Linked DNA regions of Homo sapiens: all the other regions are linked to region 1. Evidence: fine-mapped expression QTL. A gene starts in region 1. Each other region holds a variant in brackets. All regions are shown on one strand. Distances are from middle to middle.

Region 1 (10,968 bases):
GTCTCGAACTCCTGACCTTGTGATCCACCTGCCTCGGACTCCCAAAGTGCTAGAATTAGAGGCATGAGTCACCGCGCCTGGCTAGCCTCTTTTTCTTTATAAATTATCCAGTCTCAGGTATGTCTTTATTAGCAGCATGAGAACAGACTAATACAGTAAGAGGTCCAATACAATAGTAGCTGGAGACTTACCCCACTTTCAGCATTGGACAGCTCTTCCAGACATAGAATCAACAAAAAAACATCAAACTGCACTATAGACCCAATGGACGTAATAGGTATTTACACAGTATTTCATACAGTATCTACAGAATATACATTCTTTTCCTCAGCCAATGGACCATTCTCAAAGACAGACCATTTGTTAGGTTACAAAACAAGTCTTAAAACATTCTGAAAAACACTGAAATAACATCAAGCATTTTCTCTGACCACAATGCCATATAACTAGAAATCAGTAATGAGGAATTTTGGAAACACATGGAAATAAAACAGTATGCTCCTGAATGACCAGTGGGTCAGTGAGGAAGTTAAGAAATAGAAAATTTTCTTGAAACAAATGATAGTAGACATGCAACATATCGAAACCTATGGGATACAGCAAACCCAGTACTAACAGGGAAATTTATAGCTATAAGTGCCTACATCAAAAAAAGAAAAAATATTTCAAAGAAACAACCTAATGATGCATATTAAAGAACTAGAAAAGAAAGAGCAAACCAAACCCAAAATTAGTAGAAAAAAGAAATAATAAAGATCAGAGCAGAAATAAATGAATTTGAAATGAAGAAAACAAACAAAAGATCAAGAAAACAAAAAGTTGGTGTTTTGAAAACATAAACAAAATTGACAAACCTTTATCTAGACTAACTAAAAAAGAGAGAGAAGACACAAATAAATAAAATTAGAGATGAAAAAAGAGACATTACCACTGACACTGCAGAAATTCAAAGCATCATTAGTGGCTATGATGAGTGACTATATACCAACAAATTGAAAAATCTAAAAGAAAGGGATAAATTCTTGGACACATACACCCTACCAAAACTGAACTATGAAGAAATGCAAAACCTGAACAAATCAATAAGAAGTAGTGATATAGAACTAATAAAAAGTCTCCCAGCAAAGTAAAGCCCAGGACCTGATGGTTTCACTGCTGAACAAATCAATAACAAGTAATGATATAGAATTAATAAACACTCTCCCAGCAAAGTAAAGCCCAGGACCTGATGGTTTTGCTGCTGAATTCTACCAAACATTTAAAGAAGAACTAATACCAATTCTACTTACACTATTCCAAAAAATAGAGAAGAAGGGAATACTTCCAAACTCATTCTATGAGATCAGTACTACCCTGATACCAAAAACAGACAAAGACACATCAAATAAAGCAAACTTCAAGCCAATGTTTCTGATGAATACTGATCCAAAAATTCTCAATGAAACTGAATTCAACAACACATTAAAAAGATCATTCATCATGACCAAGTGTGATTCATCCCAGGGATGCAAGGGTGGTTCAACATATGCAAATTAAGTAATGTAATACATCATAGCAAGAGAATGAAGGACAAAAATGATCAAATGATCATTTCAATTGATGCTGAAAAAGCACTTGATAAAATCCAGTATCGCTTCCTCATAAAAGCCCTAACAATACTGAGTATAGAAAGACATCCCTCAATATAATAAAAGCCACATATGATATACCCACAGCTAATATCATACTGAATGGGGAAAAACTGAAAGCCTTTCATCTTTTTTTTTTTTTTTGAGACACAGTCTTGCTCTGTCACCTAGCCTGGAGTACAGTGGTGCGATCTCAGCTCGCTGCAACCTCTGCCTCCCAGATGCAAACAATTCTCATGTCTCAGCCTCACCAGTAGCTGGGATTACAGGTGCATGCTACCACACCCAAATGGAGTTTCACCGTGTTGGCCAAGCTGGTCTCAAACTCCTAGCCTTAGGTGATCTGCCCGCCTTAGCCTCCCAAAGTGCTAGGATTACAAGTGTGAGCCACCACACTGGCCACCTTTCTTCTTTGATCAGAACATGACAAGGATTCCCACTTTCACCACTCTTATTCAACATAGTACTGGAAGTTTGCAGCTACAGCAATTGGACAAGCGAAAGAAATAAAGGGGATTCAAATAGGAAATGAAGAAATTTAATTACCCTTGGGTGTGGGTGGCTCATGCCTGTAATCTCGGAACTTTGGGAGGCCGAGGCAGGCAGATTGCTTTGAGACAAGCATGGGCAACACAGTGAAATATCATCTCTACAAAAAAATTAAAAAATTAGCTGAGTGTGATGGAGCATGCCTGTACATGCCTGTAGTCCCAGCTACCAGGGAGGCTGAAGTGGGAGGATCACTTGGGCCTGGGGCGTTGAGGCTTCAGTGAGCCATGATCATGCCACTGCACTCCAGCCTGGGTGACCGAGTGAGATCCTGTCTCAAAAAAAAAAAAAAAAAAAAAGGCGGGGGGAAAGAAAAAAGAAAGAAAGAAAAGAAAGAAAAGGAAGGAAGGAAGGAAGGACGGGAGGGAGGGAGGGGAAAGAAAGAAGAAAAAATTTTCCTTGTTTTTAGATGATATAATTTTATATTTAGAAAAACCCAAAGTCCACCAAATAAATATTAGAACTAATAAACAAATTCAGTAAATTTGCAGGATACAAAATTAACACACAAAAATCAGTAGTATTTCTCTATGCCAACAATGAACAATCCAAAAAAGAAATCAAGAAAGTGATCCCATTTACAATAGCTAAAAAGAAAATAAAATACCTAGAAATGAACTTAAGAAGTGAAAGATCTCTACAATGATAACTATAAAATATTGATGTAAGATTTTGAAGAGGCCACAAAAAATAGTAAGGTATTTTATGTTGACAGGTTGGAAGAATCAACATTGGTAAAATATCCATACTACCCAAAGCAGTCTCTATTAAAATACCAATAATATTCTTCACAGATATAGAAAAAAAATCCTAAAATTTATATAAAACCACAAAAGACCCAGAATAGCCAAAGCTATCCTAAGAAAAAGAACAAAACTGGAGGAATCACATTACCTGATTTCAAATTATACTACAATTAGCTGGATGTGTTGGTGCATGCCTGTAATCTCAGCTACTCAGAAGGCTGAAACATGAGAATCGCTTGAACGTAGGAGGTGGAGGTTGCAGTGAGCTGAGATCATGCCACTGCACTCCAGCCTGGGTGACAGAGTGAGACTCTGTCTCAAAAAAAAAAAAAAAAAAAAAGAAAAATTAAAAAAAAATACTATAGTAACCAAAATGGCATGGTACTCGCATAAAAACAGACAAATGGACCAGTGGAACAGAATAGAGAACCCAAAAACAAATCTATAACCCTACAGTGAACTCATTTTCAATAAAGGTGCCAATAACATACACTGGGGAAAAAACAATCTCTTCAATAAATGGTGCTGGGAGACCTGGATATCCATATGCAGAAGAGTAAAACTAGACTGCTTTCTCTTGCCGTGTACAAAAACCAAATCAAAATGGATTAAAGACTTATATCTAAGACCTCAAACTATGAAATGGCTACAGAAAATATTGGGGAAAATCTCTAGGACATTGGTTAGGCAAAAATTTCTTGATTAATAACCCACAAGCATACGCAACCAAAGCAAAAATGGGATCATATCAAGTTAAAAAGCTTCTGCACAGCAAAGGAAACAATCAACAAACTGAAGAGACAACCCAAAGAGTGAGAAAACATATCTGCAAACTACTCATTTTGAGATATCATCTCATCCCAGTTAAGATGGCTTATATTCAAAAGACAGGCGATAACAAATACTGGTGAGGATGTGGAGAAAATGGAACCCTTGTACACTGTTGGTGGGAATGTAAATTCGTGCAACCACTATGGAGAACAGTTTGGAGGTGCCTCAAAAAACTAAAAATAGAGCTACCATATGATTCAGCAATCCCACTGCTGCGTGTATACCCAAAAGAAAGGAAATCAGCATATCAAAGAAATATCTGCACTCCCATGTTTGTTGCAGCACTCTTCACAATAGCTAAAATTTGAAAACAGTCAAAGTGTCCATCAACAGATGAATGGATAAAGAAAATGTGATACATATACACAATATAGTATTATTCAGCCATAAAAAAGAATGAAATCCTGTCATTTGCAACAACATGGATGAAACTGGAGATCATTATGTTAAGTGAAATAAGCCAGGCACAGAAAGAAAAACATCACATGTTCTCACCTATTTGTGGGATCAAACAATCAAAACAATTTAACTCATGGAAATAGAGAGTAGAAGGATGGTTACTAGAGACTGGAAAACATAGAGGGGGTGGGGATGTTGGGGGGCAGGTGGGGATAATAAATGTGTACAAAAATTAGAAAGAATAAGATCTACTATTTGATAGCACAACAAGGTGTCTGTAGTCAACAATAATTTAATTTTCATTTAAAAATAACTAAAACAGTATAATTGTTTTGTTTGTATAATAACACAAAGAATAAAATGCATGAGGGGATGAGTACCCTATCCTTCAGGATGTGATTATCACACATTGCATGCCTGTATCAAAACTTCTCCCGTACCTCATATATACATGTACCATCTACCTACAAAAATTAAAAATTAAAAAAATTATATGGAACCACAAAAGACCCAGAATAGCCAAACCTGTCCTAAGCAAAAAGAACAAAACTGGAGGAATCACATTACCTGACTTCAAATTATACTACAGAGCTAGAGTAAACAAAATGGCATGGTACTGGCATAAAAACAGACACATAGATCAGTAGAACAGAGCGGAGAACGCAGAGATAAATCCACACAGCTACGGTAAACTCATTTTCGACAAAGTTGCCAAGAACATACTCTGGGGAAAGGACAGTCTCTTCAATAAATGATGCTGAGAAAATTGGATATCCATATGCAAAAGAGTGAAACTAGATCTCTATCTCTTGCCATTTACAAAAATCAAAGAAAAATGGATTAAAGGCTGGGAGTGGTGGCTCACACTTGTGAGGCCAAGGTGGGCCAATCGCTTGAGGTTAGAAGTTTGAGACCAGCCTGGGTAACATGGCAAAAACCCATGTCTATACAAAATACAAAAATTAGCTGAGCATGGTGGTGCACACCTGTAGTTCCAGCTAATGGGGAGGCTGAGGTTGGAGGATTACTAGAACTCGGGAAGTTGAGGCTGCAGTGAGTCATGAGCATGCCACTCCACTCCACTTTATAACACACTGTTGTCTACATAAGGCTAGCTACATCCCTTAATCTTAAACTCCCACCGCTTTCAGACACTATCATACCCCGCCCCCCTTCCCCCCGCGAACCCCCGTGCATTCTGGGACTCATGGTTTGGTGAGTGTTGTCCAGGAATGGCTACAAACCCACATTACTATGATATCGGACTTCTACTTGTGTAGTCATTTGTTAGTTAACTGTACATTTTGGAAGGTTTTTGAGTAGAGAAGTGAAATAATCCAACGTTTGGGAAGATTTTCTTGTGCAGGATTGGAGGAGGACGGGAAAGAGGGAAAAAGCATTGCGCGCGTGTGTGTGTGTGAAGTTATTACAACTATCTATCTTGAAGCATGCGAGGTAGGAGGGCCTGAATTGCCATGAAACGCAATGACGATAAACGAAGGGACCCGTGAGAAAGGGGCAAAGAGGTGTCTCAATAAAATAAGCAACGGCCTGCTGTGGGAGGATTCGGGTCTCAGTATAGGCTGCCACTGTCAGCTTTGCAATATTCCTCGAGCCTTTATCCATGAGTAGGACAGGATGGCTCTACCTTGCAGGGTTACAGCATGGAGCTGCGGGACTGCGCCGGCAGTGCGCTGAGCGGCATCCCTGCGATAGGGTGAGTGCACCAACCCTTGTTGTCTCTCTTAGTAAGAAAGAGGAGGGGTAGATAATAGCATCTTCACCCCAGTAGTTGCCGTAAGTAGTAATGCTAAGAATCCGGCACGTCGTAGGCATCAATCTCAGTCCGCCATCTCCCCTTGCTACCACGCCAGGAGGTACACAGAGGAGACTGCCCCGACTGGCAACTCCCGCGCCGGGGTTCCCTGGCCATCCTCCCGCGTTCCCTCCAGCCGCGCGCTGTTGCCAGGGCCCGGGCACCGCCCAGCTCCACTACGGACCAATGGCAGCGCGGCTTGGGCACCGCCCAGCTTCAGCGGAAGCCAATGGAGGCGCGGCGCGGGCACCGCCCTGATCCGGCGCGGGCCAATAGCGGCGTGGCCCGAAGCGGGGGCCGCCCCGGTCGGGCGGGGAGGCGGGGAGGTGGCCACTGGCTCCGCCCCGCTCCCCTCTGACCCGGTGTCTAGTCTCTCCGTCTTCCTGTTCCAAACCACGTGGACGCGTCTGGGCTGCTGGAGGCAGCCCGAGCCGCCGCCGTCGGTGTCGCCGCCACCACCACCATCGGAGTCACGAGTCCCGCGTCTGTCCGAAGTCGCCGCTCTCGGGCTGCTCACGTCTCTTCGGAGAGCGCGCACATGGCGACTCAGGCGCACTCCCTCAGCTACGCAGGGTGCAACTTCTTGCGCCAACGTCTGGTCCTGTCTACCCTGAGCGGGCGCCCCGTCAAAATCCGAAAGATTCGGGCCAGAGACGACAACCCGGGCCTCCGAGGTAACTTGGTGTGGGCGGCGCGCGGCGTGGGCGCGGGGGCTGAGGGGAGACCGAGCTGATGCCGTGGGGGCCCGCGCGGTGTTGGTTGGGCGGCTCGGCGTCCGGCGAGCGCGTCGGGGAGGGCAGGTGGCGCGTCGCCTCCAAAGCCGGAGGGGCAGGCACAGTGGGGGAGGCGGGGTCGGGGCCCGAGGGGAGCGCTCAGCTGCAAGCTGCGCTCGGCGTCTCCGGGGCGCTGGTAGTAAACAGCTGCACGTTTTCCAGCTTTACGTGTAGCAACAAATCCCTGGCGTCGCCCCTTCGCGTCCCTTCGGCCCCTCTTGCCCTCGCCATAAACCTCTCAAAGGAGAAAAACAGTTTGTTGGACCGAAATATGGTGAATGAGCCGGGGGAGAGACATTGGGAGAGAAAAGTACCTTGGGTTGGTTCTCTGCCCTGTCTCAAAGCAGTTCTCAGAAGCAGCTGCCCCCTTGGACACCGGCTGTTCCTGTCGCCATGATTTCTCGGCTGCCCTCACACTTGTCCTTGGGTGTGGATAAAGAAATTTTTAAAATTCTGTGTTTGTTTTCAGCCGTGACTGTGATTGATGTGCGCAGGACAGGAGCTTTGAGATAGACTTTTAACAGTCATGGGCCTAATTGCCTTGACTTTAGAAAAGGGGTCGGTGACAATCGCTAAACTGCAGGCTTCCAAGCTCACTTCTTGCTCTGCAATGGTAGGTTAAAAAGAAATAGGCCCATTTAAACCCACATCTCATTAAATGGCGCCGGTTTTCAACTGGCCTTGGTTTACACCTGGCCCCCTGGCATGAGATACATGCATTTAAAAGCTTCTGACTGGTGGTTATCCCAAGTTGGGCGAGTCAGTAGTCAGGTGAAAAAGGAAAAAACCTGTCTGTAAATTGAAAAAGAGTGTTTGTGGTTGGTCCTGGAAGCTTCCTGAGCGGCGCTGATGTGTTTCATTTTGCACTGGCTCTTGTTTTATCTGTCTGAATGCATTTTTTGGATAGTTAGATCTCTGCCTCTCTTGGGTGGTGATTGGCTGCACATAAAGGGCAGAAGATGCCATGCTATTGACGGAGATAGGTTAGGAAGGAAAGAAGCAGAATATCCCAGGTACAGTGGTGAGAAACCTAGTGATGGTAGGAAAAACTTGTGTTGGTGGTTCCTGTCCTCTCTCTACTGCTCAAAAACACTGAGAAAGTTAGGGAGAGACCACAAATGGTTTATGCCACGACTTTTCCGTCAACAAGTGTTCCACTTAGTTTGACCCTTGGGCAAAGTGTTTGCTTGATTGCTGTGTGGCATTCTCAGCCAGCTCTCCATCCACTTTACCCTCAGGTTAGCTCAGAGAACTTGCCACTAGCTGGATATGGTAAGAAGATGGACTTCTACTTTGTATAAAAGTAGGCATAACTTTTTTTTTTTTTTCCAGAGAAATGGAAGTATAGCCTGGAAACCTGGGTTCTCTAAAATGAATCTAGTTCTATTTAGAGTTTTTCTATTGACAGGTGGCCTCCAATTTAATATTTAATGTTCCAAAGTATGCTTCTCCTTCTCCCCCTCCACTGTATGTGAGCATCTCTTCAAAGCATCTCACACATATGAGCTCCCGTTTCTTCCAAGAACAGGGCTTGGCCACTTGGCACTTTCTTGAAAGGGTGTCAGACGCTGATACCTGAGGGAGGTAGAACTGCTTGGCAGGTGTGCTGGTATTTTATGGGGAACATTACTGTAGAGCATTATTTGCCTTACCCCGTTCATATACCAGGGGAAGAAAGAGACTCCTAGTTATTTGTACATCCTTGCGCTGGCTTCAGGGCCTCAGAAACCTTGTAGATGTTTGTCTGCTTAATTTCTTTCTTTTTTTTTGAGACAGAGTCTTACTCTGTCTCCCAGGCTGGAGTGCCGTGGTGCGATCTCGGCTCACTGCAACCTCCGCCTCCTGGGTTCCTGCAATTCTCCTGCCTCAGCCTCCCTCGTAGCTGGGATTACAGGTGCCTGCCACCATGCCCAGCTAATTTTTAGTAGAGTATTTTTAGTAGAGATGGGGTTTCACCATGTTGGCCAGGCTGTATGAAACTGCTGACCTCAGGTGATCCGCCTGCCTTGGCCTCCCAGAGTGCTGGGATTACAGGTGTGAGCCGCTGCGCCCAGCCTGTCTGCTTAATTTCTTACAGAGGGAACAGAGAGATAGATATGCATTTGCAGATATACATGTATATGTGTATATGTATACACATACATGTAAGTGTATATACATATACGTGCACGCATAAATAGATGTAGTCCCTGACACATGATTTCTGGTCATAATCAAGGGAGTCCTTGGTAGCTTGATTGAAGATGTAGCCGGAAGCCTATGTTGCCCGTCATCTGTCCCTTTCTGACTTTTCCTAACTCAGATTCTCAGAGTTGGAAAAAACTCAGAGCATATCCAATAAAATCTTCAGTTCTAATGCAAGAATCACATCTCTTCAAGGTGCTTGCTTAAAACATCCCTCATGGTGTGGGCTTTGGAGGGTAGGGATAGTATGGGAGGCTTTCGGCCTCAGGAACATTTATTTAGAAAGTGTTTATTGAGCCACAGTATGTGCAAGGCTTTGTATGGGGGTGAGTGTAATATATGTGAGAAGCTGGTTGCCCCTGTTCTCATGGAGCTTGTCATGTAAGTAGGATGTTACTAAGTTTGAGTAACTTGAAGTAGGAAGGATTGAGTATTGTACAGGGGCTCAGTGGAGTTCAGAGCAGACACTTCCCTGAAAGTTACGAAGGAAGGCAGGTTTTCTGGACCTGATCTGGACAGATAGGATTGAGATGGTGGCTGCGGAAATCATTGTTTGCAAAATAAACAGTTCTTTTTTTAAAGAAATTTTATTTTAGAGTCGGGGGTACATGTGCATGTTTGTTACATGGATATATTGCCTACTGGTGGGGACTGGGCTTCTGGTGTACCCATTATCCAAATAGTGAACATCGTACCCAATAGGTAATTTTTCAATCTCCCTCAATCTTCCTCCTTTTCCAGTCCCCAATGTTTGTTATTTCCATGTTTAAGTCCATGTGTATCCATTGTTCAGCTCCCACTTATAAGTAAGAACATGGAGTATTTGATTTTCTGTTTCTGAATTAGTTCTCTTAGGATAATGGCCTCTAGCTCCATGTTGTTGCAAAGGACATTATTTCATTCTTTTTTTTGAGACAGAGTCTCACTCTGTCATGAGTGCAGTGGTGTGATCATGGCTCACTGTAGCCTCAACCTCTTGGGCTCAGGTGATCCTCTCACGTTAGCTTCCTGAGTAGCTGGAACTACAGATGTGTACCACAGCATCTAGTTGATTTTTAAAATTTTTTTTGTAGAGATGGGGTGTTGTCTATGTTGCCGAGGCTGGTCTTGAACTCCTGGACTCAAGCAGTCGTCCTGCCTCAGCCTTCCAAATTGCTGGGATTACAGGCATGAATAACCATGCCCAGCCTGATTTCATTCTTTTTTATGGCTGTGTAGTATTCCATAGTGTATATATACCACATTTTCTTTATCTAGTCAACCATTGGTGGACACTTAGGTTAGTTCCATCACTTTGGTATTGTGAATAGTGCTGCAATAAACATACAAGTACAGGTGCCTTTTTTGTATAATGATGTCTTTTCCTCTGGGTAGATACCCAGTAGTGGAATTGCTGGGCCATATGGTAGTTCTATTTTTAGTTCTTTGAGAAATCTCCATATGAAAGAAACAGTTTTTAAGTCAAAAAGTTCTTTATTTTCTTTATTTTACTGAGGTAAAATCCTTAATTTGTCATGGTCATAATACTTGGCAATTAAGAGCTTGGGGTCAGTATTGGACCTTGGTTTGAGTACGAGTTCTGCCTTTCGCTATTAGCTCTTGGTCCTTGGGCAAATTATTTTAACTATTCTCTTCTGAGCCTCAACTTTTTCACCTGTAAAGTGGGGCCAGTACTACTGACTTCACAGGGTTATTGTGAGGACTAAATGAAATAATACTTCAAAGTGTACTGAACAGTGCCTGGCACATAGGAAGAATAAATGTTAGCTGATTTTATTATTATGTAGCTTGAACCCACTGGGTATAGGTCTGCTCCCTGGCATGCCAAATCCGTTCCTGCTTCTATATGGAAATTTTTCAGATATTTGAAGAGAATTATGCCTTCTGTAAAGTTCTTCTCCTAGGTGGTTGTTTCCACGTATTTCTATGTTATATGTAAAGCACAGTAGTTTTCAACCAGGGGCACTTTTGTTCAGTGGGGGACATTTGGGAGCATTTGGAGACATTTTTGGTTGTCACAGCTTGGCAGAGGGGAATGCTAC
Region 2 (10,968 bases), 45 kb after region 1:
TTGGCCTTCTCCCCAGCTGCTCTTAAGCCTCGACTGTATTCTTCTTTATCTGGCAACGCCAAATGCATATATTAAGTTTTTGAGTGTGCTTTATTTTTTTATTTTTAGAGAGAGGGTCTCACTCTGTCTCCCAGGCTGGAGTGCAGTGGCATGATCGTGGCTCACCAAAGCCTTGAAGTCCTGGGCTCAAGTGATCCTCCCACCTCAGCCTCTCAAGTAGCTAGGACCACAGGCGTGCAGCATGCCCAGCTTATTTTTTTTTAGTAGAGATGAGGTCTCACTATGTTGCTCGGGCTGTAGCTTTAATATTTAAAATTAGCTAATCTTCAGTGGTTTTCCTAGTTTCCCCTGCCCCACCTGATCCATTCTAAGCATGTTCTTAGGCCTCACAGGTCATTCCTAAGTCTGGTATTTTTCTGATATCACAATATTTAGTTGGGGCTTCTTAGCCTGTTAGAGTTAGTTGTAACTTGGAGATGGCTGGGCTTGAGCCCCTTGCCTTAGAGATAAGGAAATTCAGATAGTTGTGATTTTCTTGTCTGAGGCAACATAGCTAATTAGAAGCAGAGCTGGGACCAGGACTAGGGCTTTTCCTATGCCTTCTGTGTGGTGCCTGCCCTCCCTGCCAGCTGACAGATCCAAGAAGGGAACAAGTAATGGAGTAATTTTCTTTCCCATGTAGCAGTTGAGGCAACATTTGCCAACTCGTTAGATAACAGTACCTGATTTGAATGCCATCTTTCTACTCTTATCAGGAATCCACAAATGGATCAGAAAGACCCCAGACTTCCTGGGAGCTCTGAATGCAGGAGGAGATAACAGTTACACGTGGCAAAGTCTTGCCATTAACTATGGATGTTGTAACTAATTGTAGTTTTGAGTTTGTGCTGCTTCCTGTAGTTTGAGGCTGTCATCACCCCGACTCCCCAACTCCCATGTAAAATCATCACCTTCCCTTTAGCTGCCTGTGTGGTGCTCATCATTGGCATTCTTAGGTGAGCTGTTGAATAGTTAATTTGGTTTGCTTTGACTCGGAATGCTACCGGCTCTAAACATTAAATAACCCTACTGGACAAATGTTAATGAAAAAGATGATTTTCTTCTGTACGTTTATACCTATAAGAATGAGTAGGGTTCTCCAGGCTGGGTGTGGTGGCTCACACCTGTTATCCCAGCACTTTGGGAGGCTGAGGTGGCAGATTACAAGTTCAAGAGATTGAGACCATCCTGGCCAACATGGTGAAACCCCGTCTCTACTAAAAATACAAAAATTAGCTGGGCGTGGTGGCACATGCCTGTAGTCCCAGCTACTCAGGAGGCTGAGGCAGGAGAATCGCTTGAACCTGGGAGGCAGAGGTTGCAGTGAGCCTAGATCGCGCCACTGCACTCCAGCCTGGTGACAGAGCGAGATTCCACTCAAAAAAAAAAAAAAAAAAAAAAAAAGTAGGGTTCTCCATTTGTTTTCTACAACAGTCCAGTCTCTCCATGCTTTTTGCATGATGCCTCTGATGCACACGATGACTTTAAGGTAGGTGTTGGTCTCCATGTCATGAATGAGGAAAGTGCGGCTCAGAGAAGCCCAGTGGCCTGTGAAATCACAGTGTTCCTCAGGCAGAGCCAGCCCACTCGCTCAGTTATATGCCAGCATCCTTTCTGTTTACCACACTGCATCATCTACCTGGTTGCTAAGCCTTACTTGTTTTTTTTGACTCTTGTATTCTGCTGAAGGCTTAATTAAACTTTTCTTTTCTGAAATAATTTCATAGGTTGATGTTCTTAAGGCAACAGCACTCCCTTTGTTGAAACAATTTGGGATTGATGGTGAATCATTTGAACTGAAGGTAAGAATGTTTGAACTGTTGACCATATGTTCCTGTGGAAAACATTTTCCCACTGACTCATTGGAAGAGCTGTGTGACTCAGTGTATGTGTGTCACATTTGAAGTCACCAGTTATCAGAAGACTCACAGGGCTCATGAAATAAACACTACAGACTTTGAACTGAAAGGGACCCTTTAGTAATAACAATAGTAGCTGACAGTGATGTTGCACTTCTTTTGCGGTGGGGGCCGTTCTAAGCAGTTTACAAATACTAACTCCTTTTCTCCTCACAACAGCTCCGCCCATGTGCCTCAGCTAGCAAGCAGTGGAGAATAGATTTGGGCCATATTGGCTCTCTGATCTAAATGATCTGGATATAATTTATGTTCAGGGGCTCCCAACCTGGATGTCCCTGAGAATTTTCAGTATTTCCAAAATCTAGTAGAAGTAGTTTAAGCATCTGTATTTTGTTGAATTATATCAATCCAATGTGGTAAACCGTTTAGCATCTCTGCCTTTTACATTCATGTTTTAAACAGGGGAAATGACTTCATTTTTATTTAATAATGTTTTGGTAGATCCGTTATTTGCATGGGAGGAGAAAAAGGGGTTTCTGATTATTAAGAAATGGGCTCAGATGATGGACTAGGTCAGCTCTATATTTTAAGGATAAAGAAGTGACCTGTTCAGGGTTAAAGAGATGAGTGGCAGAGCCACTTGGGTAATCGACTTGGACTTTGACACATGCTGCACAGGTACTCTCTAGGAGCCAACATAAGGTGCTGTTGGTCTTGAAGGGAATGACAGATTGAATATGGAAGAGCTATGCCTTGTAAGGAAGCATCTGCTGGTGTAAACCTTCCTGGGCAGGGTGTCAGGGTAATCCATTGCTTTGCTGCATCCTCGCCTCATCTTTCTCACTCTCTGTGTAGATTGTGCGACGGGGAATGCCTCCCGGAGGAGGAGGCGAAGTGGTTTTCTCATGTCCTGTGAGGAAGGTCTTGAAGCCCATTCAACTCACAGATCCAGGAAAAATCAAACGTATTAGAGGAATGGCGTATCCTTTCCATTTATTTGGATTTCTTTTTTTTTTGTTGTTGTTGCCTCACTAAGATAAGAATGACTAACAGCTTTACTTCTTCCCGAGGTTATTTACATTTTAGACTACAACTTTGAAAAGTCTTAACAGTGAAATTGTAATTGCTGGCTGAGTTAGGATGTTCTGTTATCTGCCTCACCATGACTAGATTGATTGAGTCATTCTTTTTTTTTTTTTTTTTTTAATTTTCCGGTTAACATTTAGGCAAATGGCTCTGATGTATGTGATCCTCTCTCAAGGGCTTTGGTTTGGGGGCCATGAATATACTGCAGTTCCTCCCTCAGAAGACGTCATCATTCGGTGAAGGAACCAAATATGAAAACACACAGTTCTGATATAACATGCAAAATGATATGTGCAGTGGGGTGGGGGCCTGGAGTAGACAGTGGTCAATTTTGTCTGGAGGACCTAGGGAGGCTGGAGTAATCATAATGAATGATATCTACTATTAAGTATTTACTCTGCATCTACTTCAGTAGTCACTTTACATGCTTTTAAGCCTCACATTGACCCTTGAGTTCACTTACATCCTTTTTTGCAGATGGGGAAACTGAAGCTTCAAAAGCTTAAGGAATTTCTTAATAATGTCACACTGCTAATAATGACAGAGCTAGGATTTGAACCTGGTCTGTGTGACTCTAAAGTACAGGCATTTAATTTTTACTTTTGCCTATAGAAAGGAGCCTTGAAGAACAGAGGATTGCAAAGTAGAGCAAGAAAGGAGGAGGGCTTCAGGCAGAAAAGTGGGCCTGAGCAGAGGTGGCAGTGCACAGTGGTTCTAGGGAGTGGCAAGTAATGAAGTGTGGCCAGATTTCAGGTTGGTCTATGGCATTTGATGGTAGAATGGGGCATGAAGACAGGCAGGGGCCAGTGAAGAGCTGAAGGTGGCTGGAATCAGATACTATGCAGAACGCAAAGAAAGGAGGGTGGAACCCTGTGAGGCCACCAAAACTTGAAAGCAAGAGTTAAGTAAGGAGGGAAGTAAGAGTGGGGAAGAGAATAAACAAAACATAGCTTCCTGGAAGCTCAGGTCAGCACTTTAAAAGGCCCTGAGGAGTTAGCATTGGGGTGGGGGAAAAGCTGAGGGACTCAGCAGCAGGCTGTCACTGATGCCCTGGGGAAGAGTGCTGGATCCCTATCCCAAGGGACTAATTCTGGGTTGTGGAGTGAAGGGGAGGGAAACAGCGGCTTGTGGGGACCACTCTTTACAGAACCTTGACAGGAAAGAGAAGGAGAAGGAAGGATGAGGGAGTAACTTGATGAAGCGAGAGTCAGGGAGACTCCCTCCCTTTTACAAAAAGATTGGTAAGGATTTGAGTGTTTTTGTAGGTTGTTAATGTAGATGAAGCAAAGTAATGAGCTGATTAAAAGCCCAGGTGCTGGAGTCAGAAAGACGTGGGTGCCGACGCCGGCTGCGCCACTTACCAATGGAAGCATTTGGCCGTAAGCCTTGGTTGCCCGTATATCTTTAGTCCTGTTATAACTGCTGTGCGAGACTGTCATGAAGGTAAAATGAGATCGTAGTTGCACAGTAGGAGGCACTGGTGTGTAAGTAGCATTGGGTAAATGGTTACTACTATTCTTTTTATTCTTACTTGAGAGGGGATGGATTCAAGGCCACAGGCATACGGTAAGGGTGGCTCCAGGTAGAGCTGTGTGGAGGTGAGTGGAAGGGGGTTGGGATGAGTTTTCAGTTGTTACCGAGTTAGGATGGGATTGAGGGTAAGGGGATGGGCGGGGTAGGATAAGAGAGTGTGACAAGGATGGTAAAGATGTGCCTTCACAGGGGAGCATCATAACTGAAGATAAGAAAAAGGCTGTGTTCCAGCAGTAAGGTCCTTGCTGAAGGTGTAATGTTAACACAGTGCCAGCTGCATGGCCATGTGGCTATATCCAGTGGCAGTTGGCAGCCTAGAGGGAGGAGTAGAGAACGTGGGAGGACCAATTTCATCCAAGGTTGGATGCAGGTTGGCAAGGTGGGTGGGTCCTACAGGAGGACAGTTGGAGGGTGGGTGCTGGAGCATTGGGAAGTACATTCCTCACTGAGGATTGTCACAGGGGCTCACCAGCCTGGACAAAGCAGGTCAAGGGATGAGAAACTTTAACAGGCTTAAAGATCAGATCTAGTGGAAATAGATACATGTACTGTGTAGGACAAGAGATTGTGTTTAGGGAGTTTTGTTTTGGGATTTCAGATATTAAAAGTGGTAAAATTCTAGGTGCTGACAGGATCTGGGTGGGAGCAGGTGTTGGAGGCCGTAGAGCAAGACAGGCTGTGGGATGACTTTCCTGGCGGGAGTGTGACAAGGAGGGCAGACCAGAAAGCCTGCTTGTCAGGGC[G/T]GGGGTGGGTGCTTAAGGTCGGGTTTTGTGTTCTCAGGAGGTTTGGCAATGGTATTACTTGGAGGAAGAAAGGTGTAGCGTGGACTGTCTTTTCAGAGGCCTCGAATAGCTTGAACAGTAAGTGGTGAAGGGCAGGGAGTAGGGTGGGCTGCAGAGCCATGTGCAGAGAGAGTGCTGGTTAAGATAGAAGCTCAAACTTGGGTTGCTGCCTGAAGTTCTTTTTAAGGATCATCAAAACCACAGGAATACATAATAACAAAGCCTTCCTGGGTTATGGTCTGTTCTCTGCATGGCTGTCCCCCAGCCCATGTAAGCGCCCAGCCTTGTGTGTACCAGGAGAGAACAGGCAAAAGGAGAAATGGTTCCTTTCCTAGGAGCCCCCAGGTTGATGCATAGTTACATTGCCCAGGTGACTTTCTAAGGTGATATTCAACTCTAGTATCCAAATCCGAGGAGCTGGAATAAGGTTAATTAGGTTACAAAGAAATGGAAATGCAATGTAACTAGGTGTGTGTTTTTGAAACCAAATGTGCCTTTTCTACTTGAATTCATTCTTATTAACAGATGCATTGTATTCCACCATATATAGAACCCAAAATCAAATCCTGTTGATGGCCATTGAGTTGTTTTTTGCTTTTCACTGTTGCCAAATACACTGCGGTTAATGGCTTTAACCACAACATTTTTGGCAATGGTGAAAAAAAGTGTAATAAGTGTATAGGAATACACTTTCCAATACATTCCAATAAGTGTACAGGAATACACTTTCAGTACTATTTTGGGTTTGTCTGGGGGGTAGTTGTTTTTTTTCCTCCTTATTTGAGATGTGTTTCCTTAATGCTGTATTGGCGGCCGTGAACTTTGTTTGGAATCCAGTCTCTGTAGTCTGGAAATGTGATTTCTGGCAGTGTGCTCTGTTTTGACACAATCTTGTCATAACAACATGGGTTTCATCACAGTGGGGTCCCCCTTGTTCTCTCTGGGTGTGCAGATGGTCGTGTCCTTTGATGATGATGCTGGGAAATGGGGAAGGGCTTTCCAGGGGAGAACATAAAAGTTAAAAGAGCTGTAGTGCCGGGCACCTTGGGTGTAACTATGTTCCTCCCTGGCTTCTCCCTCTAATGTTCTTGGAACCTTCCCTGTGTAGAATCTGAGCCAGGAAGAGACTTGTGAGGTCCCAAGTTCCTCCCTCCCTGGAGGCAGGGGATAGGACATGGAAATCATCCCCAATATATCTCTGACTGGTTGAGGCTTCCTCCTGGCTCCCCAGGAGAGTTGACACAGTGCCCTTTCTCAGATCCCTGTCTGTTAACCAAACATTTCAGCCACTGCTCTGCAGAGCTGCCCATTTCACAAACACCTCAAAGGAATGTTGGTTTGAATGGAGATCGCCCTCTTCTCCAGTTTTGGAGCCTGGGAAAAAAGAGCTGCCTTTGGAAAAAGCTTGAGTTGGTTTTGTGGTTTTTTTCCTTGCAAGGCTGGTTGACTACTGGACTAAGCTTGGAGGTTGTATTTCCCATGGGAGGGCTCAGACTGGGAGAAAGAGGCCCACTCTCTTGTGTGCATTTGTGGTTTTAACTGAATTACTTCCAAAGTGCATCTTTTCCCTCTTGCGTTCTACAAGATGACCTACCAGCCAGGGCCCAGAGGGAGCTGGTGTTGGTTCCTGCCAGCAGCTGTGACTACACAGTAGTTACCTTTTACTTAATGCCACCCACTCTTTCTCACCCCTGCCTTATGTGGGGCGTAAGAGAAAGGAACATTCTGTTTTAGTTTTGCAGTGCTGTCCTAGGAGCTCATGATTTGGTACATGAGAATTAAGTGAAAAAGCTGGCAGTAAAGGGGGATAAGTTGGAATTCGTGGGATAATCTAGTTTCTTTTCCTTGACTGTAGGAAAGGTACTTTGAGAATCAAGCTCTCTCTCCACCTACTGTAACATACACACACACACCCCTCTTAGCTTTCTCTGACATGGAACATTGGGGAAGGGGAAGAGTGGGAGTCCCATATGGACTGTAGCTATGGACTTGTACATTGGTATTGGTTCTTAATATGGTTTTCATAAATGGGCTTTAGGAGGTTCATAAACCTGAAAAATTTTCTGCAAGATTGTGAGTATATATGTTTCTCAGGAGAGGGTCCATAGCTTTCATCAGATTCTCAGAGAGTTCTCTGATTCTTGAAAGAATAAGAACCTCTGCTTGGGATTTGAATCTTGGATAAGTAATAAAGAAAAGCAATAGCTGACATTTGTTGGGCTCCTACTACACACTAGGCATTAAGAGCTTTACATGCATTTTATTTCATTTGTGCCTCCAAACTCTGTGAGGAAAGTGTTATGATTATCCTTCTTTTACTGATTAGGAAATGACAGCACAGAGAAGTTACCACAATTAACCTGGAGTGATGCAGCTTGCTGGAGCTTGGACTTGAACGGAGATAATCTGATTCTAGAACTTGGGGGCTGTTAGCCATTCCTTAGTAGGACATCCATGCCAAGCCAGATGGTTCTAAGCAACTGGCTTTAAAGTTCCTTTGCCTTCTTCATTTCATTGCCTGAGTTCTAGTATAGGATTCTGTAGGCCCTGAATTCGTACTGTTTGTTAACCTTCGTGTTTTTGTATTGGGATGGGTGAGAGGAGGAAGATGCTTTTTGGGAGTCAGATCTGTTTAATTTTGAGCAAGTGTCTTAGTTTTTTTGTCTTAGTTGTCTTTAATGTAAGTCCTAGAACTCGGAGCCATGGCCCTCAACACAGGGTTACTGTGAGCATAAAGTAAGGTGATAATAGATGTGAAAGAACTTTGGGAGCCGTGAGCTCTGTGGGATTATGTGCTAGGATGGTGACATCTCTTGTGCTTTCCTGGGGACAGTGGGCAGCCTCAGACCTCAGAAGGACAGCACCTGCTTGGTCCAAAGGGTATGAGATTCAGGACTGTTTGTCTAAGCTGTCTGTGGTCAAAAGTACATTCTGGACTGAAGAGATGGTGATGTAACTGGGCTGTGTGTGTATTGAAAAATCCCTCTTTGCTCTTTCCTCATTTCAGGTTTGTCCTTTGAGTCAAGTTAAATATTTATTGAGCATTTCTGAGTACAAAAGTGGTGTATTGGAGAGTTGGGAGGGATTACAGAGGTAAAGCCCTTGCCCTTATAGAGTGTGTGGTCTCATTGAAGAGCAAGAACAAAATGTGCATATGTGAAGAGAGATGTATGGTAAGTTCAAGTGGAGCTAACACTTGGGTGCCGGCTGGAGGGTTTCAGGAGAGAGATTGGGACCTCGGGCTGGGAGAATGGGGCAAAGCAGCTCAGGTTGAGGAATTTGGTCAGTTTGGATGGGTGGAAGGAGTTGATGGTGCAGAGCTGAAGATGGACACAACTGAGCAGGCTGGGGGCTCTAACAACAAGATATGGGAGGACCAGGAGCCACCGAGAGACTGTCACCAGCATGAGGAAGATTGGTCTTTTAGTATGAAGTTCAGGATGGGTCAAAAAAGGGAGCTAGATACCAGATCAGGTCATGTATCGTCTCTGAGCACTTTGTTTCTGCAGTTCAGATGAAAATTAAATATGTTATTGTCAGCAGTTCTTGAACATTGGGCTGGATTGGGCAGATTATATACCTCGTTCTACCTGTTGGACTTGTCACGTGGGGTTTGTATCAGGGTAGTGGGAAGGTCACATGTTATTTCTCCATTTTTTTAGTTCCAAATATATAGCCATCTCTTGACCATACATTGCACATTGAAGTGCTCAATACATACTTACTTTTTCTTTGACATGTGTGGTTGGGGAATGCCAGCTTCTGTTATAAAGTCTAGTTTTAGGCAATAATTTCCATTTCCTCAAGCACCAATCTTTTCACTTGAGTTACTAATATCTTCCTCCTTTCTTTTCTGGGGTGCCCTATTGTAGGAGTGCTAATTATCAATATTTTAACCATAAGGTAGCAGGTGTGAGGAGGCTGTGTTATCCACAAGTGGAGTAATTAATTCTTAAATAGTAGAAAATAGGCCCTGTAAATGAGAAAAACCTTTTTATATATTTATAAATAGCAGCAACCATGTTCTTTCACTGAACTTTTTCTGCTTCTCCCATCAGCATACCAGGAGTCAGATTGGGATCGCCCAGGTCCTGTGTGGTGTCTGTTCTGGGCTTAGGTTCTTAAGAGAGAGACTCATTGGCTACAGCAGTGGGAATGGACAGAGAATAGAAAGTGTTCTTAGGTGTTGTGCTTCAGAGGGAGCCTGGATCATGACCCGCAGAGAGGCAGGTGTCTTTACACCTTCCAAAATTGACTTGAACCATTTCTAGGGGAAGCGTGTGGGTAGGAAGTCAGGGGGTGGGGTTGAGGACCTCCAGCTTTATACTTTCCACTGTCTCTATTGTTTGGGTGTTTTTGCCATGACCTTTTATAATAATGAAAAAAATTTAATTATGGTACTAATTCAGTAAATTCAGTTGGAAAACAATAGATTTGGAAGTCCCAGTTTGTTACTACAGTTCCACAAATACTTGCCAGCTTTATAACTGATTTTTCTCTGTCCTGGAATTCAAGCAGAATGACATCCTTAACTCCAGGCTGCAGGTACTCTGTACGTGTGTCACCTCAGATGGCGAACCGGATTGTGGATTCTGCAAGGAGCATCCTCAACAAGTTCATACCTGATATCTATATTTACACAGATCACATGAAAGGAGTCAACTCTGGGAAGTAAGTATCTGTGTTTTTGAAGTCTGTTTCTGCAGCTTTTTCACATGCCTGTTCTAGTTGAAGTTAAAACTGCCAGCTCTGAGGTTGCGCAGCCAGAGGAAGAACAATTTCAGAATTAATTTCTTTCTGCCTTATTGCCGTTGTCACCAACAGGCATTTCTTGAGTGCCTGTCACATGGAAAGCATCCCAGTGGCTAGAGCTGGAAGCTAAGGGTCTGGTTCCTAGCCTTGGGGAATTAAAACCTTTATCTATTAATACACAATGCTTTAGGCTTTAAATTCCATCTGCACTCTGTTCCAACAAAAAAATTAAAGTGGACAGGTTCTTCCACCCTGAGTAAATAACAGTATAGGGTTAAAATCTTTTGTTATCTAAGTGTAAGTCAGCATCTCTCTTCATCAGTGGAAACAACATATTTACATCCAGAGAAAGTTGTTATTGCAGACGTGAATTTGGTTTAGTGAAAGCCTTTGCTTTGCTAAAAAATAAAAATTTTAAAAATTAGAAAAAAATTCTAAGTAAGGAAAATAAGTTCTTAAAAAATGATGCTCTATGTAATGAAGATACCTGTTTTAGGCTTTGCTTGTGTATTTAGCAACTAGGAAGTTAGAGAAGCAATTAAAGCCACTTTCTTAAAATAGGAAAGTGTTAAACATACAGAAAAGATCAAAGAATAGTACAGTGAACACGGAGATATACTCCTGCTGCCTATAGTTAACGATAAATATTTTGCCAAATTTGCTTCACTTGTTTGTGGGTTTTGTTTGTTTTTGTTTTTTACTGAATCATTTCAGTGTGAATGGGCATCATTTCACTTCACATCTGAGGCTTTGCAGGTTGTGTCTCCTAAAAATAAGAATATTAGAGTCTGGGGTTAACTGTTGTAGGTTAAGAAGTCAACTTCTTCTTAAGTGATGCCACAGCTGATCCTTTTTCACAGCTGTTTCACCTGTGGTTTCTTTTAATTTCAGCAAAAAGAGGAAAAGAGAGTAAAGGA
Region 3 (10,968 bases), 59 kb after region 1:
AGCTTTGGAAAACCTAAGAACATGGAACAGAGAAGGGGTAAACTGATGTTGAAGACAGACTCAACCAGTTGTCATTTTGCTTCTGCAGGTCTGCTGGTGGGACACAGCTGAGACCAATTTGCCCTCTCAGTTGCCACAGTCTTTCTCTGTTGATCCTTTCATTGCAACGGGCACATATGCATGCACACACTTTTACTGTTTCCTCAAAATAGGTGAGGTGACCTAAAGTAAGGGAGAAATTTGGAAAGATGATGGCAGAAAGAATAAGATACAGTTTCCTAAAAGATATATTCCCTGAGATCCCCTATACTTGGTTAGAAGAGGGTCACAAATCTGGGTCCAAGATTTCTGTTAGTCTGCACCGTCTTTTGCCTTGGTCCCACATCAAGAAGGTGAAACCTTTTCTCTGACATGCAGAGTCCAGGAAAGGCTCTGAAGGATGGTCGTTTCTCTGCTCTGTGTGTTAGGTCCCAGATTCTTGAACTGAGCATCAGCAAGAACTATACTCTAGTTGATTTGCTGTTGTATGGTGTATAATGTTTGTAAATCATCTCTCTTCTTCCCCTAAGGAGCTGAAGAGACTTCTTTCTTTGTATTGTTCTGTGTATTTCTTCTCAGTTGTCAGGCATCTTTCTGGTCTCCAAGTAAGTTTTCTCGTTTATGGTAGCAAAAATCACATCTGAGCCAAGTTAAATAAAATCAGTAAAACAGGTAAAGTGGCAATTTAGTTTTTCTTTTAATTCTTCCTTTTGCCACTGGTTCAGTTTATTAATCAGGGTGGTAGGGTAAAGCCTGACTAGCCATAGGTATTGATCCTCAGACCAGCCTCACAGTGGAAAACAGCTTATATTTATAGTCTACTCCCTTGATCCAAGTCAGTGTTCTTGAAAATGTCTCATTGGTCCAAGATGGAACACATGAGAATGAGCTGTTTCAGAATTAATTAAATTTCCAGGTCCTAAATGGCTCTATTTAATGACCATCTAATTAAAAATGGAAGACAGTGGACCTATAGTTTTATTTTCAGGAGAGTAGCTCCAGCCCCTCTACTCGGCATTCACCTGGGAAATAGTAGAAGAAGGAGATGAAATCTTCCTGAAGGAGGAGGTATTCTTTGACAAGTCTTGTGCAGTCACGATCTGGCCTCAGATGTTTTGGTGCTAAATCAGTTTACTTTTTTATGCTAAATTTAATAATTTTGTGAAAAATGGGTAGTAACTAAAAGTTTGGGGTAGATGATCAAGAGGTTGCCCTGCCAGTTACTTAATTCACGAAGTTTGTGGTCTACTTATTTGTAGGGGGGCGGGAAACAGTGCATGCAATGTGTTTCCCTGGGTCTCTTGTTGTGCAGGATTTCTTTTCCTGGTCCTGTAGTGTCTGGCCGTGGCTGGTCCTGTAGTGGCCTTCTCTCTAACTATGGGGACACTTCCATGTCTTTCTAATAGACCTTGGGAGAATTAGAAGCATCACATTATACAGTAGTCCAGTAGGAGCCTATGGGCACAGCTAGAGTGTGGGGTTTATATCCCTATAAATAGCAGGCTATAAGCCTCAGGGTAAAAGCACCTACCACTCCACAAGAGGAAAAACATGCAGTTTAAATTAGGTTCTTTAATATTTTTCTTTTTTTTTTTGAGGAAGAGTCTCACTCTTTCCCAGGCTGGAGTGCAGTGACGTGATCTTGGCTCACTGCAACCTCTGCCTTCTGGGTTCAAGTGATCTTCCTGCCTTAGCCTCCCATGTAGCTGGAGGCATGTGCCACCACGCCTGGCTAATTTTGTATTTTTAGTAGAGATAGGGTTTCTCCATGTTGGTCAGGCTGGTCTCGAACTCCTGACCTCAGGTGTTCCACCCGCCTCGGCCTCCCAAAGTGCTGGGATTACAGACGTGAGCCACTGTGCCTGGCAATTTTTTTTCTTTAGTTGAGATCTACTTTCAGTCTTCCATTGTGCCTGGACCAAATTTCTTTCGTTTTCTTTTAGTTATTCAGAAAACTTCCTTTTTATGTCTATGATCTTTAATTATTAAAAGGATGGAAATACTTCATGTTTTTCTGAATAATTTTCTGTAGAGTTGTGATGTGACATGGATTGAATGAGTGGTAAAAAATCCATCCCTTTTGAAGGTGCTATTTATCAAGTTTTAAGCCTCTGATCTAATCCCCCCTGTTCCATTTATGCCTCATCGGTTACCAAGCCTTCTTGATTCTGTCCCAGGCTTTCTGGAACTGCCTTTTCTTTCCATCCTTTTCACTGCTCTAATCACTGCCTGCCTCCCTGCTCCACTCCACAACTGGATTATGGCCACTGGCTCTCTGCATTTCTAGCAGAGAAGTTCTTTCCAAATCCTAACATCCTTTTCAGGCTAAAATACTGATCTGATCTCTTCACTCATGTGCACAGAGACCTTCACTGGCTTCTCACTTTCCTGGGACAAAGTCAGAATTCTCGACCCATTTCGGAAAGGCTTGCCTTAATTGGGCTACCCACCTTCTCTGTGCTGTATGTGCTTCTCCACAGGCAGCAGTGGTGCCTTCCAGGCTGGTCACCTGGCCATTCCTTGCTGGCCCTGGCATTTTATTTTTCCCCATCATTCTGTTCTTCCTTCCTCCCCAAACCCTGCTCATCTCTCAAGGGCTGGCTCAAGTAGTCCTGAGTCCTAAAGCCCTCCTCAGGTATCTGGCAGGTGACACCTCCCCCCAGCATAGGTAGGGTGATAGCCCCTACCACTTCCTCCATGATGTCCTGTACAGGGACCTTAGCTATCTATTACATTAAAATACTGGTCCAGTGAATGGTGAAATAACAACAGTGATAGGAAGCAGAGACTGAAGAGAACACTTTAATTTTAGGCTGTCTTATGAAAGGGAGCAAGATCTATAAAACAGTTTTGTTGGTCGTCATATTTTCCATGGGTCAGGTTTTTCTTTTTGGGTAGAAAAGGAAAAGGAACTCTCCTTGTCCTAGAATTTGCTATGTGATCTAAATGTTGTTTTCTGTCCTTTATTAACTAAGGTAGTTTAGGGACGTGCAATAGATTTTCATAAAGGCTAGCAGTAAGATCAATCCTTATTTCCTTCACCATTATTAGGGCTACTAAATGATATCTGACAGCCAGAGAATTTCAGAGTGTCTGTATCTGAAAATGGATTTATTTCCTACCCTACATGCCTTAAAAAGGAGGCAGGGGCAGTTGTAGCCATATGAACCACACTGCTGGCCACCTATCCTGTTCAGTCTAGCCTTGGATAGTAACGTGCCTTGGTCAGACTGGATTTCTAATTTTGACCTGTGCAAAATATGTAGAAATTCAAGGTCATCCTTCTTTGACTATGTACAATATGTTTTAAAGTTATTCCAGAAAGAATGATCAGAAAGCGTGTTTGTATGCTTATGTATGCGTCTAGTGGAGGCAAAACAGTTAAAATGGCTGAGAAAATGAAAAACAAAAGAAGAAAGGCAACCTAAGCAGTTGTACCTCAGGAGAAAGTGTTTGAAGAGAAGTCTGTTCTGCTTGTTAATTTGGAAGAAAGGGAAGGAAAAGGGGGTGGAAGGCATAATTTTATACATAAGTAGTAAGAATAAAGGGATCTAACCTTAACAAGTCTTCAGTTTTAAGGAACTCAGGAAGAGATAAAGGAGAGAAGTTAATAGAGTATGGCAAGCAGTTTCCTGAATGTATTTGAATAAGTGTAAAAGTAAGGCCATGAAAAGGCCGTTTCATGTCAGATAGACTGTGTTGTTCTGTGACAGATTCAATAAATATGAGCGTCATCCACTTAACCCTTGGAATTAACTCTACATCTTCTAGAACTGATTAAGATTTTTTTTTTTTTGCATATACTCAATAAAGATGATGTCCTCCTGCTGCTGCTTTAATGATAAAGGGAAAGTTTCATTTTTTTTTTTTTTTACTAGATTCACTTAAGAAGATTTGAATCTGATAGTCTCATTCTGATAGTCTCAACTATTACAGTTGCTCTAATTAACTGTTAGTTTAACCCTCTACAGTTAGTTGATACAATGATTACTCTTATAAGACCTGTATTCTGTTTTATTGTTGCTTGAACTTTGGATTTTGATATTATGAGTGTATGTTTCTGGTTTTTTTTTTCCTCCTCTCTTTTGTTGGCTTTCCATTTTCTGGTTTGTACAATTATTAATTTGTGTTTACAGGGTGGATGCGTAGACTCGACCAACCAAAGCCTGGCGCTACTACTCATGACCCTTGGACAGCAGGATGTTTCCAAAGTCCTGCTAGGCCCTCTCTCTCCCTACACGTAAGTTATTCTTTTTCAACCTCGTTATTCTGTCCAGTGTAATTTTCTCATTGCCCAAAATGACAAAGGGTGTTGTGCTGCACAGAGCCTGCACTATGAACACCTGCTTGTGTTTATCCTCAAATCAGCCAGCAGTTGTCACTCTTAACCTGGTGTTTATTTTTACATACAAGGATTTTTGCATTTCTTTCCTTCCTTAATCCCAGGTAACTGAAATTGCATGATCTCTATTGGGCAGTTATTTTGTTCGTGCTTTAGATTTTGTTTCCAGGTTAGAGGTAAACTCCTGGTTTGGTGTAGCTTGGATTTTATTACTAGTTTTTTTTTAATCATTCTTTTCCTTAGCTGTCTAACTTGCTGTGGGAAAACAGGCTTTTTGTCTAAGATGATAGGATATGAGCTCACTGGGAAAGATGACAAAAGACAGAGTTTGTATTAATGCTACTGGACTAGTAGGGAATTGTAGAAGTGAGTTTGGATTGTTGAATGTTAGCAGAAGTTGACTGCTGTGGTGTAAAAGCAAGCACTCTTCAAAAAGAACAGTGTCAGAAGACTTGAATTATAAATGACACTGTGAAAGAAGCATTTCCTATTGATAGTAAATGAGGTTGCGGAAAACAGCCTATTTGAGTACTGACATTGTGTGTGTGTGTTTTCACGTGCTTGCATACTTGGAGATCATCATATGGCCCATCTGAGGTTGGTGAGCTGGGTGGCAGGGAATATTCAGGTAGATATGAGACTGAACTGTCCTTTTTCGGTTATCATGGTACCGATGCTGTATATCTGAAAGGTACAGTACTGTGATAACTGAAGAATGGTGGTGCCATCACATTGAGAAAGGGTTGAGGACTGCGGTGGGGCTATGCACCCTTGGGCCATGGCGTTGGGGGCATGAAAACCAGGAGCTTGAAATAAATTCTTATGGAGGCTTTTTTTTTTCTTTTTTTTTTTTTTTTTGGAATTCGTGGTGGGAGGTTTTTTTAGAACAGGAAAATGGAAGAGAATACATTCTGTTAGCAGAGAGGGAAGACTGATAAGCAGGAAACTGGTAAGGACCACATTATCTCCTGATAGCTTGTGTAAAAGTATTTCGTAGGACAGGATACCTAAAATTGAGTAATCCTAAATGGCGTGGTAACATCAGTAGTAAACAATGCTAAAATAGACTTGGTAGTTAAGTACTTGGAGAGGAGATGAGGGCTGGAAGAATGGCACCCTAGGTACAGAGACTCGCTTCCTGTAGAGAGCTCACTGGAGGCGGCTGCCAGCTGTGTGGCCACTGTGGCCCCACCGGCTTTGTAGCTGGGCTCGTAGCTGCCGTTTCCCAGCCCTTGCTTCAGGCCTGGGGAAGTCCTGCTTGCACACACGGTATGAGGTATGGGGTGTTGTCTTGAATGTGTGTGGTCCTGGGGCATGGGGTTTGGCAGAACATTCTGTGAAAATGGAATACATAT[A/C]TGTTTTTTTTCGTGACACTTTTTTTCTTTTGCTTTTGGAGATTTTTCAATTTGGCTCCAGGACCTGTATGATGTTTTCAAGCTTTGCAGAGATGCTCAAGATATGACTGGACATTTTTGAAAGTTCCTGTGTCCTCTTCAACACATCTTCTCACCAAACATTAATTGTAGTGTCTTTTCTTCCAGAAAACTTGCATAAAATGACTTCCTCTCCTGTGAAAACAGTGTCCTGCTCTGAATGGAGCTTTAAAGGAGTAGCACAAATTGTAAGATGATGTATCTTGAGGCTGGGGCTTAGAGATATTCTGCTGCCTCCCAGAGCTTTGTGCAGACGGGTCTGCCAGGGTGGGAAAGGGAAGCCTCCGTTCTTTTTGGTAAGCTAGCATAAAGACAGGTAAGGGAGTCTATTTTCAAGAAAGCTGGATCTGTTTCATACTCTTTCTGCCCCTAATCACTATGGACAGCTCCAGCAGCACAAAGAGATGAAGGGCAAAGGCAGGATGCAGCAGGCAAAGTTAACATTGTATTTGTGAGTACAGTTGAGGATAAAAAAGGGATGAAATCCACGGTGAGGACCATCATGGTGGGGGAATAGTTTATTCTAATGGATTCAAGAGCTTTGGAGACCAAACTAACACATTTATTTTTATGTGTAGTTAAAGTCATAGAAACCTGTTTTGTGAAACCTCAGATTTCTAAAGAAAACCAGAAGCAAGACCTTCCTTGGTTTAAAAAAAAAAAAGCATTTCTTCAAGCAGTTTGGACCTGTTTTTCGTGTGTATAAAACAGCTTTTTAAATGTCTATGTAAAGAGCATTGGGATTGCTGTTGGTGGTTTTCTGTGCTACTTGAGAAAGTAAGTCTGTATGTGTGAAACTCTTTTTTTTTTTTTGAGACAGAGTTTCGCTCTGTCGCCCAGGCTAGAGGGCAGAGGCGCAATCTCCGCCCACTGCAAGCTCCGCCTCCCGGGTTCAACGCCATTCTCCTACCTCAGCCTCCCGAGTAGCTGGGACTACAGGCACCCGCCACCGTGCCTGGCTAATTTTTTGTATTTTTAGTAGAGACGGGGTTTCACCATGTTAGCCAGGATGGTCTCGATCTCCTGACCTCGTGGTCCACCCGCCTTGGCCTCCCAAAGTGCTGGGATTGCAGGCCTGAGCCACCAAGTCCGGCCAATGTGAAACTCTTTTAGAAAGGCCCAAGAGATTTTTTTTCAGTAGAATAAAATACTGTTGGATAATCACTGGTATATGAAGATTCTATTTCTGTTAAATTTGTTGAGTTTTAGGTGGCTTACAGTTAGTGACAGTAGTTGCACCCTCCATTCAACAAGCTTAATTTTACAGTTTAGGGAGGGAGGATTTATACTTTTGGATTAACAGCAAGAAAAATAGCAAAAATTAAGATGCATCTTAATTAGCACTTTCAGAAATTATTTGTGGAATGAGACTGCAGTTACCAGAGCTCTCTGCATTCTGCCAGTGCACAAGTCTTGGAGTCCAGCCTATCTGGACTTAAGGCTCTACCACGCGCTACCAGGAGACCGTGGAAATGGTATTTAGCATCTTGGAGCCTTGGTGTCATTTGTAGATAAGGTGCGTGGTCCTGAAGTCCTGGACTTGTGGAGATGGAACGAAGCTTAGATTAAGTCAGATGCTTAGTGCTCCTGGCAACGTGCCTGAGGAGCTGTCAGTGCTGGGTGCTGTGGTTCCTGCCTGGACACCCCTTCACCCTGCTGCAGTCCAGTCCCTTGGTCAGGTCACTTTTTTTTTTTTTTAACTGCTCCTTGAGGAGCAGGACTACCCCAGAGGCAGTGTGGCTAGAGTAGCCCGGTCAGGTCACTTTGAACCCCAGGAGGCCTAGTAAACTTGCTTTGGGTGATTTTAGGGTTTAAGTCATCTGTAAGTGGTCTGCCCAGCTACCTATAAATCTATATCCATTAATTTTAAATTATGGATTAAAAAATTTTAATTTCTAGTTATTATTTTTATGACTGACTTCCCCTAGTCACATTACTGAGCAAACTACACACATCTTATTGATCCTAAGAATTCTGTAAGGTAGATGTTTATTTAAACAACACCGTGTTTACTGTGTGCAAGATGTTGTTTTAAGCACTCAGACATAATAACTTATCTGGTTTTCATCATAACTTCATAAGGGCAAAAAAGGCAAGTACTATCATGTGCACCGTCTTACAGGTGATGGGATTGAGGCACAGCGAGGTCAAGTTACGTGCCCAGGGTCACACAGACAGTAAGTGGGGTTCAGACCTGGACAGTCTCCTCCAGTCACTGCTTCCCTTACCCACTGTGCTCTTTTTTTTTTTTTTTTTGAGACGGAGTCTCCTCTGTCGCCCAGGCTGAGTGCAGTGGCGCGATCTCAGCTCACTGCAAGCTCTACCTCCCAGGTTCGTGCCATTCTCCTGCCTCAGCCTCCTGAGTAGCTGGGACTACAGGCGCCCGCCACCATGCCCGGCTAATTTTTTGTATTTTTAGTAGAGACGGGGTTTCATCGTGTTAGCCAGGATGATCTCGATCTCCTGACCTGGTGATCCACATGCTTCGGCCTCCCAAAGTGCTGGGATTACAGACGTGAGCCACCGTGCCCGGCCAACCCATTGTGCTCTTATGTAAGAGCTGGGATTCCATCCATATCGCTGGACTCCAAGCACCTTGCCTGAGGCAGGATGCCATGCTACATCTTTTCAGCAAAGTCCTCGTTTCAAATTCTGCTGTAAAATGATCTCTTTCTATCTTTAGTTGGAAATCTAAAATAAACCGTGACTTTTTTTTTTCTAACTTTAGTTAATGACCTTTTTCCATGACTGTGGAAGTGCTGAGGAGCTAGAGGACACTGTCCTTGTTAAACACCAACTGAGTGGGGCTTCCTAGCCCACTCAGCCTAAAGCTCAGCCCTCTGAAGAACCAATGAGGAAACCAGTGGGGAAACTGGGAACTGCCGGCCAAGCCTGCCTCTACTTGGGGTCAGTGGCCTCACTGCATTCCATGAGCTTGCACAGTACCACTATGTCTTAGTTTTGTGAAGCGTTTAAATTCTGTAAAGCCCTGTCACCTGATGTTTGAGCCCTAGAACATAATTGGTGTATGGTAAAAGCAAGTGATAGCCTTCCTTCTCAGATAAAAAAGAGGTCACTGACCTGCTTATGGTGAGATCCTGTCTGAACTGGGCCTGGGACCCCATCTCCTGACAGTGCAGCTAGCCTAGTTCTCTGTTTCCTGCTGCCTCAGTAACTGAATGTAGTAATTTCATTTGGAGCAGAGGTCAGCTTGTCTTTGGAAAAGCCTCTATTCAGCAGAAAAAGCATCAGCAGTATATTTAAAAGCTGCCATGTAATGACTATAGGGACTCCATTGAGCAGATCCTTTTCTTATCTCCAGATCTTTTCCCTCAACTTCCAGAGCATGTCCTTACACCTGAGATGTAGGTACCCCCAGCTCTGTCCCATATCCAGTGGCATAGTAACCAGGTGGCTTAGTGGAGGAGGACGCAGGACCCTCTGTTGTGGTTTGTGCCTGTGGGGGCTGCCAGAGAGAGGGCTCACCCCATGATTGCCTTCACCCCAATCTCTCACATGCTTCAAAAGAGGGGTCTGGTGGGAGGGGCTGTGTTTAAGGGTGGGATCTGGCAGCCTGTCAAATCCTGGTCAGTTGGGATTCAACGGACCCATGACCACAAGCCTCATGGCCTTTCCTGTTGACCAGCAGTGGCAGTGGGAACAACTCACCTTTTGAAAATACATAGGAAGGCCGGGTGCGGTGGCTCACACCTGTAATCCCAGCACTTTGGGAGGCCGAGGCGGGTAGATCACGAGGTCAGGAGTTCAAGACCAGCCTGGCCAACATGTGAAACCCCGTCTCTACTAAAAATACAAAATTAGCCGGGCGTGGTGGCACATGTCTCTAATCCCAGCTACTCGGGAGGCTGAGGCAGGAGAATCACTTGAACCTGGGAGGCAGAGGTTGCAGTTAGCTGAGATCGCACCATTGCACCCCAGCCTGGGTGACAGAGCAAGACTCCGTCTCAAAAAAAAAAAAAAAAAAAAATAGGAAAAGTTATCTCTGTGCTCCAGAATTCTCTGAAACCTGCTTGTCAGATGGACTAGAGGCTTTCGTAGAAAAGTCAGTTGCTTTTTGTTTTCTGAAAATCATTTTGTCCCGGGGAAAAAAAAAGCCTCACTGCAGATAATCATTCTCTATGTTAGGTGTTAAAATCCTTTACACAGGAGTTGCATAGAGCCCCTACTGCCTAGAATGGTTCTTCTGAAAAGCTGCTATTTGCGCTGTGTGGGTGGTTACTCATTGAGGGGCAGAGCTGCTCTCGGTGAGCGGTGGGTCTCTTTGCCCTGGGTGTGTGGCTGTGTGGTTGTGTCTAGGAAGTGTGAATCTCCAGTGTAGTGCTGTGGAAGAGAGGGGCAGGGAAATATGAACTCAAGAGGCGGTGCCTCAGTGCAGCTGCTGCTGTGGAGAGCTGTTGGGCTGTGGAGCAGGACGTGGATCAGCACTGGACAAGACTTTGTTCAAGTGCATGTAGATACAGGACGAGCTTACTCTTCATTTGCTTTTCGTTTTCTTAAGGAGGCTGTTTGCTGGGATTTAATATTGTCTGTGGTTTTTTTTCAGGTTGTGAGCATTTTTGCTCTTCAATATCCCAGCTGCCAGAGACATAGGGAGAATGGGGCTAGAGGTGGGGGAAAGATTCTGAAATGTACCTTAATCTAGTCTCTTACACAGTCTTCCTTGGACAGGCTGAGGAGTTGGCAGAACATTATGTAAAAAGTGGAACTAACTTTGCTTTTTCTAACTGTTCCAAAGGCTACAAATACCCCAAACTTGCAAATACACAGGCCTGCACACTTGAGCCTGTGTTCCTCCCATCCTTCTCCAAGAGATCAGAAGCAAGCTGAGGGCCCGTAGAAATTCTGCCAGCTGGGGAGGGTGTCTGGTTTTTCAAGCACAGTTGAGTGATTCAGAGTGAAGTAGGCTGGGTGACATCCTGGGAGCAGAGCATGCCCCAGGCCTGTGTTAGTTTGAGGCAGCAGCAAAGGAGAGACCAATCTGTTTTCTCCTTCAGATGCAGAGTGGGTGAGATGGCTGGCTTTTTCCAGGTTGCCGCCAGCTGGAAGCTTTGCCCACAGATGTGGACTGTTTATCTGTGGTTTGCTGTGTTTTCTTTTTTCCCTAGGACAGGATGGGGGAGATGGTGGGATGGA

Evidence for each region.
Region 2: its variant is fine-mapped to the expression of RCL1 in sun-exposed skin (GTEx, PIP 0.97).
Region 3: its variant is fine-mapped to the expression of RCL1 in tibial nerve (GTEx, PIP above 0.99).

What each region holds. Positions count from the first base shown.
Region 1 is chr9:4,786,585-4,797,552 of GRCh38, forward strand. RCL1 (RNA terminal phosphate cyclase like 1) reads left to right here and starts at 6,360. Exons shown (of 9, transcript NM_005772.5): 1 at 6,360-6,643. The coding sequence starts at 6,508. RefSeq lists enhancers at 5,617-5,666, 6,487-6,536, 6,611-7,110 and a silencer at 6,047-6,406.
Region 2 is chr9:4,831,388-4,842,355 of GRCh38, forward strand. RCL1 (RNA terminal phosphate cyclase like 1) reads left to right here. Exons shown (of 9, transcript NM_005772.5): 4 at 1,767-1,841; 5 at 2,754-2,878; 6 at 9,845-9,970. Among named protein-coding and RNA genes, the nearest start is that of MIR101-2, 13 kb to the right of the region's middle. RefSeq lists an enhancer at 1,842-2,136 and a silencer at 10,922-10,968. The variant G/T (reference allele first, on the strand shown) is at 5,261.
Region 3 is chr9:4,845,272-4,856,239 of GRCh38, forward strand. RCL1 (RNA terminal phosphate cyclase like 1) reads left to right here. Exons shown (of 9, transcript NM_005772.5): 8 at 4,176-4,279. It overlaps MIR101-2 (microRNA 101-2), which reads left to right and starts at 5,026; the gene lies at 5,026-5,104. LOC124902113 (a long non-coding RNA gene) reads left to right here and starts at 5,096. Exons shown (of 2, transcript XR_007061402.1): 1 at 5,096-7,991; 2 at 8,543-10,968. The variant A/C (reference allele first, on the strand shown) is at 5,737.